2 separate regions of the Homo sapiens genome follow, and region 1 is linked to region 2. Evidence: fine-mapped expression QTL. A gene starts in region 2. The other region holds a variant in brackets. All regions are shown on one strand. Distances are between the middles of the regions. Region 1 overlaps HSD17B3 (hydroxysteroid 17-beta dehydrogenase 3). Region 2 holds the start of HSD17B3 (hydroxysteroid 17-beta dehydrogenase 3).

Region 1 (5,235 bases), 23 kb before region 2:
AAGTGGGAAGCATCACACTTCTTGACTTCAAAATATATTATAAAGCTACAGTAATCAAAATAGAATGCTTTACTAACATTAAAAAAGACATATAAACCAATGGAACAGAATAGAGAGCCTGGATATAAATTCACACATCTACAGTCAACTGATTTTTAACAAAGGTGGCAAGAGCACACAATTAGGAAAAGATAGTCTCTTCAACAAATGGTGTTGGGAAAACTAGATATCCGCATGCAGAAAAATGAAAGTGGAACTTATCTCACACCGTATACACAAATCCACCCCAAAGGGATTAAAGACTTAAATGCAACCTCTAAAGCCATAAGATTATTAGAGGAAGACATAGGGGAGAATCTTCCTGATGTTGGTCAGGGCAATTATTTTTTAGATATGACACTGAAAGCACAAGCAACAAAATAAAAATAGACAATTGAAATTGCATCAAACTGGCCAGGTGCGGTGGCTCACACCTGTAATCCCAACACTTTGGGAGGCTGAGGTGGGTGAGTCACAAGGTCAGGAGATCGAGACCATCCTGGCTAACACAGTGAAACCCTGTCTCTACTAAAAAGACAAAAAATTAGCTGGGCGTGGTGGCAGGCGCCTGTAGTCCCAGCTACGCAGGAGGCTGAGGCAGAAGAATGGTGTGAACCTGGGAGGCAGAGCTTGCAGTGAGCCGAGATCACACCACTGCACTCCAGCCTGGGCGACAGAGCAAGACTCCAGCTCAAAAAAAAAAGAAAGAAAATGCATCAAACTAAAAAGCATCTGTGCAGCAAAGGAAACAATCAACAGAGTGAAAAGGTAACCTACAAAATGGAATAAAGTATTTGCCAACTACATGTCTGATAAAGGATTGATATTCAAACTATATAAAGAGCTAATAAAACTTAATAGCAAAACAAAACAAATAACGTGATTTTAAAAAAGGAAGAAGGATGTAAATAGACATTTTTCAAAAGAAAACATACAAATGGTCAATAGGCATATGAAAAGATGTTCAATATCGCTAATTATCAAGGAAATGCAGATGAAAACCACAATGAGCTATCACTTCACACCTGTTAGAATAGCTACTATAAAAAAGACAAAAGATAAGTATTGGCGAGGATGCAGAGAAAAGGGAACTCTTGTATACTGTTGGTGGGAATGTAAATTGGTACAGCCATTAGGGAAAACTGTATGGAAGTTCCTTCAAATAATAACTACTTTATGATCCAGCTTCTGGCTATATATCCAAAGGAAATGAAATCAGTATGTCTTCAAGGTATTTGCACTCCCTTGTTCATTACAGTACTATTCACAATAGCCAAGATATGGAAGTAACCCCAATATCCATTAACAGATGAATAAGGAAAATGTGGCACACACACACACACACACACACACACACACACACAATGGAATATCATTTAGCCTTTAAAAAGAGAAGGAAATCCTGACATTTATGACAACATGGATAAATGTTGGACATGGATAAATGAGGAGATTATGCTAAGTGAAATAAGTCAGACACAAAGACAAATACTGCATGATCTCACTTATATGTGGAATCTAAAACAGTCAAGCTCATGGAACTACAGAGTAGAATGTTGCTGCTAGAGGCTGGGGGAGGGGTAAATGGTGAGATGTTGGTCAAGGGACACAAAGTTTCAGTTATGCAGGATGAATGAGATCTAGAGAACTAATAGACATAGTTAACAAGGACATAGTTAACATAGAACATAATTAACAAGGCTGTATTATATGCTTGAAATTTGCTAAGAACTGTAAATCTCGTTTTCTCACCCCTCCCAAAAAAGAACAAGAAAAGATCATGGTAATGATATGAAATAATAGATACGTTCGTTAACTTGATTATGGTGATTATTTCACAATGTATACATATTTCAATATATTAAGAAGTCATACACTTAAATATATACAATTTTTATTTGTCAATTATTCATCAGTAAAGGTGCAAGGAAATATTCAATATTTTTTAAGTTAAAGGAGAACAAAATAAATACACAAAAATTAGATGGCAGTGCTCTTGAAATGGGTGTGGGGATGTGTGTGGAGAGGGTGGGTGCTGCGTGGGGCTTGAGTGGGGCCACCCTGCTTGTGTCCAGCTGGGCTGAGTGATTGTCTAAGGCCACAGCAATTACACACACTCCCTAAGGGAACTCTGTCTACAACTAGGCAGAAATGATGGGAACCATGAATTTGATGGTAGGCCATGAATTTGATGTCTTTATTTGATGTAAGCCTATTTGGCTGCTGTTAAGTATTGGGTTTTTCTTATAACCTCCAGTAATTAGAAATAAATGAGGACTGTAGGTACCCTCCCACAAAACCCAGCCAGCAGATGGTGCCTTACAAGGCAAGCAAGCTTCAGACTGAACTCTAC[C/T]ACACCTAAAACATCAAGCTGGATCAAAGAGTCAGGAACCTGTTCTTGAAAGCTCAGTGGAGCCCCAGCTCTCTGACCCTTAGGCAGTCTACTAAATGTCTTGCATGAGGGCTCATCCCCGGTAGATAAAATATTCTAAGGGGTGGATACAGTCAACCTTCTAGCTAAATCACATGGCAGAATCCTCCACTACGTGGCAGGATGTGGGACCAAATCACAGTTCAAGGCCATGAATGCTACTCTGCTATACCCACAGATATTACACCTGTAAATCAAAAAGTGTCTGAGACAGGTCTCAATCCATGCTGAAGTTTATTTTTCCAAGGTTAAGGACATTCCAGTGGCACAGCCTCAGGAGGTCCTGCGAACATATACCCAAGGTGGTTGGGCTACAACTTGGTCTTACATGTTTTAGAGAGACATAAGATATCCATCAATACATGTAAGATGTACGTTGCTTCTGTCCAGAAAGGCAAAACAACTCAAAGGGGTGGGTGTGGGGGGACTTACAGGTCATAGGTGGATTCAAAGATTTCCTGATTGGTAATTGGTTGAAAAAGTTTATCTAAACACCTGGAATCAAGAGAAGGGAGTGTCTGGGTAAGATAAGAGATTGTGGAGACCAAGGTGTTTATTATGCAGATGAAGCCTCCAGGTAGCAGGCTTTAGAGAGAATAGATTGTAAATGTTTCTTATCAGACTCCCAGTTAATTCTCTCCTGAATCAGGAAAATGACCTGGAAAGGGAAGGGGATTCTCTACAGACCATAGATTTTCCCCACAACAGAGAGCTTTGCAGGGCCATTTCAAAATGTGTCAAAGAAATACATTTGGGGGTAAAATACTTTGATTTCTTTTAGGGCCTGCTGTCTGTGATGTTGGTATCTTATTGCTACAAAGAGTCTGCTTTGTCACTCTTTTTTTTTTTTAGATGGAGTCTCGCTCTGTCACCCAGGCTGGAGTGCAGTGGCGCGATCTCGGCTCACGGCAAGCTCCGCCTCCCAGGTTCACGCCATTCTCCTGCCTCAGCCTCCCAAGTAGCTGGGACTATAAGCGCCCGCCACCACCCCTGGCTAATTTTTTGCATTTTCAGTAGAGGCGGGGTTTCACTGTGTTAGCCAGGATGGTCTCGATCTCCTAACCTGGTGATCTGCCCGCCTGGGCCTCCCAAAGTGCTGGGACTACAGGCGTGAGCCACTGTGCCCGGCCTGCTTTGTCACTCTTAAGGTCTCTGTGTTGATATCAGCGGTGCTCAGCTGTGCCTGAATTCCAAAGGGAGGAGGCCGTAATGAGGCATGTTCAACCACCCATCTCCATCATGGCCTGAACTGGTTTTTCAGGTTAACTTAGGAATGCCCTTGGCCAAGAGAAGGGGTCCATTCGATTGGTTGGGAGACTTAGAATTGTATTTTTGGTTCACATACTTTTGTTCATTCAAGGGTAGAAGTGCCTGTACAACATTTTTTCACCAATCCACTTATTTTGAACGACTATTCCACAGTATAAATAATTTCCTCAGGAAAATTACTTATAACATCTGTTAGGCTAGCAAGCCTTCTAATGAAGGTCAAGTTAGCTGAGGCATAGATGTTGATGAACTCTGATTTGTCATTTTTAAAAATAACTAAAAACTCAATTTATCCAGGGTTCTGGCAGAAATAGCACACTCAAACTGAGTAATTTGGAGAGAGTTTAATATGAAGAAACCACAAGGGACAGTGCAATAGGGTGGGGCTGGCAACACTGAGCTGCTGTTACCATGTCAGAGGTATTTGAGCCACAGCAACTCCATCTTAAATAGGAGCTGGGTGAAATGAGGCTGAGACCTACTGGGCTGCATTCCCAGATAGTTGAGGCATTCTATGTCACAGGGTGAGGTAAGAGGTCAACACAAAATACAGGTCATAAAGACCTTGCTGATAAAACAGCTTGCAGTAAAAAAGCCAGCTAAAACCCACCAAAACCAATATGGCGAGGAGAGTGACCTCTGGTCATCCTCATTGCTACACTCCCACCAGCGCCGTGACAGTTTACAAATGCCAGGGCAATGTCAGGAAGTTATCCTATATGGTCTAAAAGGGGAGGCATGAATAATCCGCCCCTTGTTTAGCATATCATCAAGAAATAACCATAAAAATGGGCAACCCGAGGGCTGCTCTGTCCATGGAGTAGCCATTTTTTATTCCTTTACTTTCCTAATAATCTTGCTTTCACTTTATGGACTCACCCTGAATTCTTTCCTGCTCAAGACCCAAGAACCTTCTCTTGGGGTCTGGATCAGGACCCCTTTCCTGTAACATCTTTCTGGTGACCACAAAGGGATTATAGTGTGAAAACCCCCTTCCCAAAGCCTAACTTTGGGTAAGTGGTGGGGTCTGGTAACATCTTTCTCACTAACCCTGAAGGCACAATACTAAAGAAGCCCCAATACTAAAGAAGCCCCCGACCCAAAAAAAATAGACTACAGCACTGATTGGATGGCTTTGGGTAAGTGGGGCGCATTTACCCGGGTAAAGGATGGGGCTGGGTTAGAGGCCCAACTTAGGGGAGTTAGAGCCTCTCCTAAGACAGAGCAGGTTAGAGGCCCTTCTTAATAAAAGGCAAGGGCACTTGACTAGCCTTGGGTTAGAGTCCTAACTTAGGAGGGTTAGAGTCCCTTCTAATATTTAGGGGGTTAAAGTCCCCTCTCAGAAAAGTCCCTCTCGTAAAGTCCCTCTTGGCTAAGAATGGGTTTGGCCCTACGGGATGTTAACTGCTTTTCTCTTTGGAATAATCTGCCTTTCGCTCTTTGCTAATGGCTGTGGGTGACAGGATTAGGCATGTACAGCATTGTGGTACACGGGG
Region 2 (5,235 bases):
CTAGTCCTTTCATATCAACATTACAGACATATTTAATGATTGAGCTCTAGTATACGCTTCATTCGTGAGAACGTCACAATTTCAAAATTCACTACAATTCGGTATATCGTAAAACTTACAATTTACCCTTGCAACAACAATTAAAGGGCATGCTTTCAAAAAGTGTGAACAAAAGGTACATTTAGCTCACCTGAGAGTGAGTGCAGGCCAAGCTGTACAAGCCTCACGGACCACACTGGCTTTAATAATTACTAATGATGTGTCTGTTCGTTTAGGAACTTCTAAGAGGCTCCATGCACACCGTCTGCAGCTCTGGGTGGAGGAACTATGCTCAGGGCATCTTGGGCCTTACCTTCCCCTCCCTGTGGGGAATCTTCAATTCACCCAATACAGGGCCTACACTACAGGCAAGATGATACCATCAATAATAACGACGGATAACGGTCACACACTCACTTCTTGCCATGTACTGCTTCTAGTGTTTTAGATGCATCATCTCATTTAATGTTCAAAACAAACCTAAAATGCAGGGACCATCATTATCCTTAGTTTATAAATGAGGAAGCCAAGGGGAAAAAGTTCGTAACTTGATTAAGGTCACACTGCTAAAAATGATGACACAAGGATTTGAACCCAGGCTGTCTGACTTTGGGGCCCTGAGTCTATGAATATACACTAAGAAAAGAATTAGGAAATCCAGCACAGAGCTCAGGGTACTCTATCTGAGGAATTAAAAATTTAGCCTCTAGTTCTTGCGTTTCTTTTTTGTCCCCTACTTGAAATATATTATCTCCCTGATATCTGCCTCTGCCCAAACATATTTTACTCCTGCTAGAGGTAACTCTATCCATCTTGACTCATAAAAACAGGTTAAGATCATGTTTTTCCTTTGAGTCACCAAATGCTCTTAGTCTCTGTCCCCATTTGAACTTCTTTTAGAATGTAGGTTTTTAGAAGGGCTTTCCCTACACAAACGACAGCAGCTGTGCAGAGTGCTACGTCCACCCACACGTGGGCATCTGAATCTGTGTGGAGTGGGGTATTTAAATCCAGAACACTCAGGTCAAGCTGCTGAGCAAGTTCAAGCAAGTTCACTCCTGACAGCATAATACCCCAAGAGGACACACACACACACACACACACACACACACACACACACACACACGCACACAGCAAATATAAGACGCAGAAGTCAAAAATCCATTTGTCATCCCAAACAATTTCTCACACGGTAATTTTTTTAATTTCCATTGCTAAGTTTTTAAGGTTGCCAGGTTTAGCAAATAAGGATACAGAATGCCCACTTAAATTTGAAATTAAGGTAAATTATGAATTGTTTAATGCATGTCTCATGCCATATGTGAGTTATACTAAAAAAGTATTCCTTTTTTTCTGAAATTTAAATTTAACTGGGTATCCTGTATTTTATCTGGCAGCCCTATAAGCATATTAGAATCTTTCCTATTTTGCCTAGATAATATCTCTAAAGTCACTTAATCATTTTTGTCATTGGATTCTTTGTGTGTGTGTGTGTGTGTGTGTGTGTGTGTCCAAATTTGAAATATAAGGCCCTGCAAAGACTTTAGCATTTCAGATATTCAAGGAGATGCTGAAACCATGGCCTCATGCTCTTCACCTTAACTTCAGTCATAGGGCTGAAGTTCTGCATGGGCGTTCCAGTAGATAAATCCCATGGGGAGGCAGCATTAATTGACACCAGCCAGACCCAGATTCCATTCCATACCATCCTGAAAACATGGCTCCATAGAGTTATGCGTTGCCTTGATTTTGTAACACCTTCATTTCTTAAAAACACTTGGATCCTTTTTTTAATACAATGAGTTAAAATTATTTAGATTTCAAAATTTGGAAACACCTTTTAGTAAAGTGAAAGCACCCTGGGCTTTTTGTAAATTTAGAGATGAGGATGCAGAAATTTCTGCATTATTTATTATTTGTATTAGCAGGAAACTCCCAAAAGAAGAAAACTCATCTAATGGGGTTGAGAGGATAAGTGCTTAGCAAGGGCTGGGTAGCCTTCTGCCCTAGTGTTCCCCTAATGCCCTACAGCTTGTGTTGCAGACCATTCTAATTTCACTCACACTTTTCTAATCCCCCCAATTAAAATTACCCAAAGGAATTACTTCTTTGCTCTCAAAGAGAAAAAAATGCAATATCCCTTTTGAGACATAAATAATAATAAGCAGGGGCTGGGTGCGGTGGCTCACGCCTGTCATCCCAGCCGTTGGGGAGGCCGAGTCGGGTGAATCACAAGGTCAAGAGTTTGAGACCAGCCTAGCCAACAGGGTGAAACCCTGTCTCTACTAAAAATACAAAACGTTGGCTGGGTGCGGTGGCTCACGCCTGTAATCTCAGCACTTTGAGAGGCTAAAGTGGGCAAATCATGAGGTCAGGAGTTCGAGACCAGCCTGGCCAACATGGGGGAACCCTGTCTCTACTAAAATACAAAAAATTAGCCAGCCGTAGTAGTGTGTGCCTGTAATCCCAGCTACTTGGGAGGCCGAGGCAGGAGAATTGCTTGAACCCAGGAGGCAGAGGTTGCAGTGAGCAGAGATCGCACTACTGCACTCCAGCCCGGGCAACAGAGTGAGACTCTGTCTCAAAAAAAAAAAAAAAACACCATTAGCCAGGTGTGGTGACAGGCGCCTATAATCCCAGCTACTTGGGAGGCTGAGGCAGGAGAATTGCTTAAACCCGGGAAGCGGAGGTTGCAGTGAGCCAAGATCGCGCCATTGCACTCCAGCCTGGGTGACAGAGCAAGTGTCTGTCTCAAAAATAATAATAATAGTAACAAGCAGGAACAACAGCAGCAAAAAAACATGAGATGGAACACTCCCTTACCTGCCCACTGTCCCATTGACCGCAAGAAAGACTTTGGCAAAACTTTCCAGTAGTTCAGTAAAACACATCTGGAGAATCTCACGCACTTCGCCAGGCAGGCCAGGCACACCAGCAGCCCTGTGAGGATGAAGAACTGTTCCAGGACGTCCCCCATGGCTGCACTCAACAGACTGTTTCAGCCCTGGCCGTGGCTCTCTGTGTATGCCTCCTGGGACCACGCTGCTCTGGAGACCTCCAGATCTTCTTCCAGGAGTCACTGGACGTGTTCCATCAAGTCAGGGGCATCTAGATTAAAGTAACTTCTTTACATAATCCTCTGACTCACAGGCCTTTGAATAAGGCTTTTGTTACTGTGGAGGAGCTGGTGAAAAAGTAAAAGGTGGACATGAAGGGAAAAAAACAAAGCCTGGACAAATATAAAATGGCAGCCCACAGTTCTCTCCCTGAATTTGGGAAAGTTAAAAAGGATGCAGAATCCAAGGCAATTATTCATACATTTAGCACTATGTATTGACTGCCTACCAGGTGGAGTCCCCTCTTGAAGGCATTAGGAAGTTAATAGTGACCACAGAGGGTCTCTCTGGTTTGGAGCTTAGATTCTGGTAGCAGGGACAGATGATGAGCAGATAAATAAGATAACATCAGATGGGGCAGTGGCTCACGCCCATAATCCCAACATTTTGGGAAGCCAAGGCAGGCGGGTCACATGAAGTCAAGAGTTCAAGACCAGCCTGGCCAACATGGTGAAACCTCATCTCTACTTAAAATACAAAAATTAGCCAGGCCTGGTGGTGGGCACCTGTAATCCCAGCTACTTGGGAGGCTGAGGCAGGAGAATCACTTGAACTTGGGAGGCGGAGGTTGCAGTGAGCCAAGATCACGCCATTGCACTCCAGCCTGGGTGACAGAGTGAGATTCTGTCTCAAAAAAAAAAAAAAGATAACATCAGTGCTATGAAAAAGCACTATTGAATGATGTGTTTGAGTAGCTACTCAGGGAATGCTTCAGAGAGGGTGTTCAGGAAGGAATTCCATGAAGAGGTGGCATTTTTAGTTGAAATTTGAATGAAAAGGAGCCAGCTCCGCAAAGATGAGTTTCCCCCTCCAGGCTAATGGAACGGCTAGTACAATGCCTGAAGTGAGAAAAATCCACGTATTTGAGGAATAAGAACTAGGACAGGACAGGCATGGTGGCTCACGCCTGTAATCCCAGCACTTTGGGAGGCCGAGGCAGGCGGATCACAAGGTCAGGAGATTGAGACCTACTAAAAATACAATAATTAGCTGGGTGTGGTGGAGCATGCCTGTAATCTTAACTACTTCGGAGGCTGAGGCAGGAGAATCGCTTGAACCTGGGAGGTGGAAGTTGCAGTGAGCTGAGATTGTGCCACTGCACTCCAGTCTGGGCGACAGAGCAAGACTCCATCTCAAAAAAAAAAAAAACACTAGGACAACACAGCAGAGGGACTGGCCACAGAGAGTAAGGGAGGAAAAGGCCAGAGCAGGAGGGAGGAGCCATGCCCTACGGGTGAGTGTGGACTTTCAGAGCAACCAGAAGCCATTGCACAGATTTAGGAAACAGAGTTCTATACTCTGAATTATGCTTTTAAAAGGCCACTGGATGCTGAGGGAAGATGTCCTTCTGGGGGTGGGATGGAGGGTGGGTGTGACAACTGAAGCAAGGGCAGCCAGGATACTGAAGTCATCCCTGCAGAGGCCACAGGATCAGTCCTTGGCCTTCTCTCATTTCTGCCTGTGCTCACTCTCAGCTCACTCTGTGCTGCAATCAACAGCCTTGCGCTCACCCTAGAAGCAGAATTGCTGGCCAGAACATAGATTCATACGTCTTTATGCTAGATATTGTCAGATTTGCCTTCATTTTGCATTCACGCCAACAACACGTGAGCATGTTCGTTTTCCCACTGCCTTAGCAGTAAAGCATGTTGTCAAGCTTTGGGACTTTTGCCACCCAGTAGGTAAGAAGTAGCATCCAATGTTGTTTTAAGTTTAAATTATCTTATCAGCCAGGTTGGAGAGATTTTCTTAAGCCTAAGAGCTATTTTCACTGTTTTCTTTGTGAATTTTCTCTCTCCTGCCCGTTTTTCTATGTGGTTTTTGGTCTTTCCCTTCTCTGTATTTAGAGATGGTTTCAGGACTCTGATTAGTCAGAAATTCGACCTGCTCACTCTGTCCTTCATGGTCATTGATTATCTCTTCAGGTGTGTCTGATCATTGTTAAGTCAGCCCATTGTGGTTTTTATTTTAATGACCTTAACTTCATTTCTAAAAGTTCCTTTTCTTTTTTGCAAAACTGAGGCTTTTCTTCTTATGGTTCTCTGCTCCATGCAGATATTTTTAATTTTGACTTTCTTTA

What was found. PIP is the estimated chance that this variant, and not a neighbour inherited with it, causes the effect. A credible set is the group of variants that fine-mapping cannot tell apart.
Region 1: its variant is the best candidate, but not a certain one, in a credible set for the expression of HSD17B3 in whole blood (TOPMed, PIP 0.72).

What each region holds. Positions count from the first base shown.
Region 1 is chr9:96,276,469-96,281,703 of GRCh38, forward strand. The region is part of intron 2 of HSD17B3 (hydroxysteroid 17-beta dehydrogenase 3); the gene reads right to left. All of the region lies in intron 17 of SLC35D2-HSD17B3 (SLC35D2-HSD17B3 readthrough), which reads right to left. Among named protein-coding and RNA genes, the nearest start is that of HSD17B3, 23 kb to the right of the region's middle. The variant C/T (reference allele first, on the strand shown) is at 2,393.
Region 2 is chr9:96,299,089-96,304,323 of GRCh38, forward strand. It overlaps HSD17B3 (hydroxysteroid 17-beta dehydrogenase 3), which reads right to left and starts at 3,088. Exons shown (of 11, transcript NM_000197.2): 1 at 2,863-3,088. The coding sequence starts at 3,016. SLC35D2-HSD17B3 (SLC35D2-HSD17B3 readthrough) reads right to left here. Exons shown (of 26, transcript NR_182427.1): 16 at 2,863-3,223.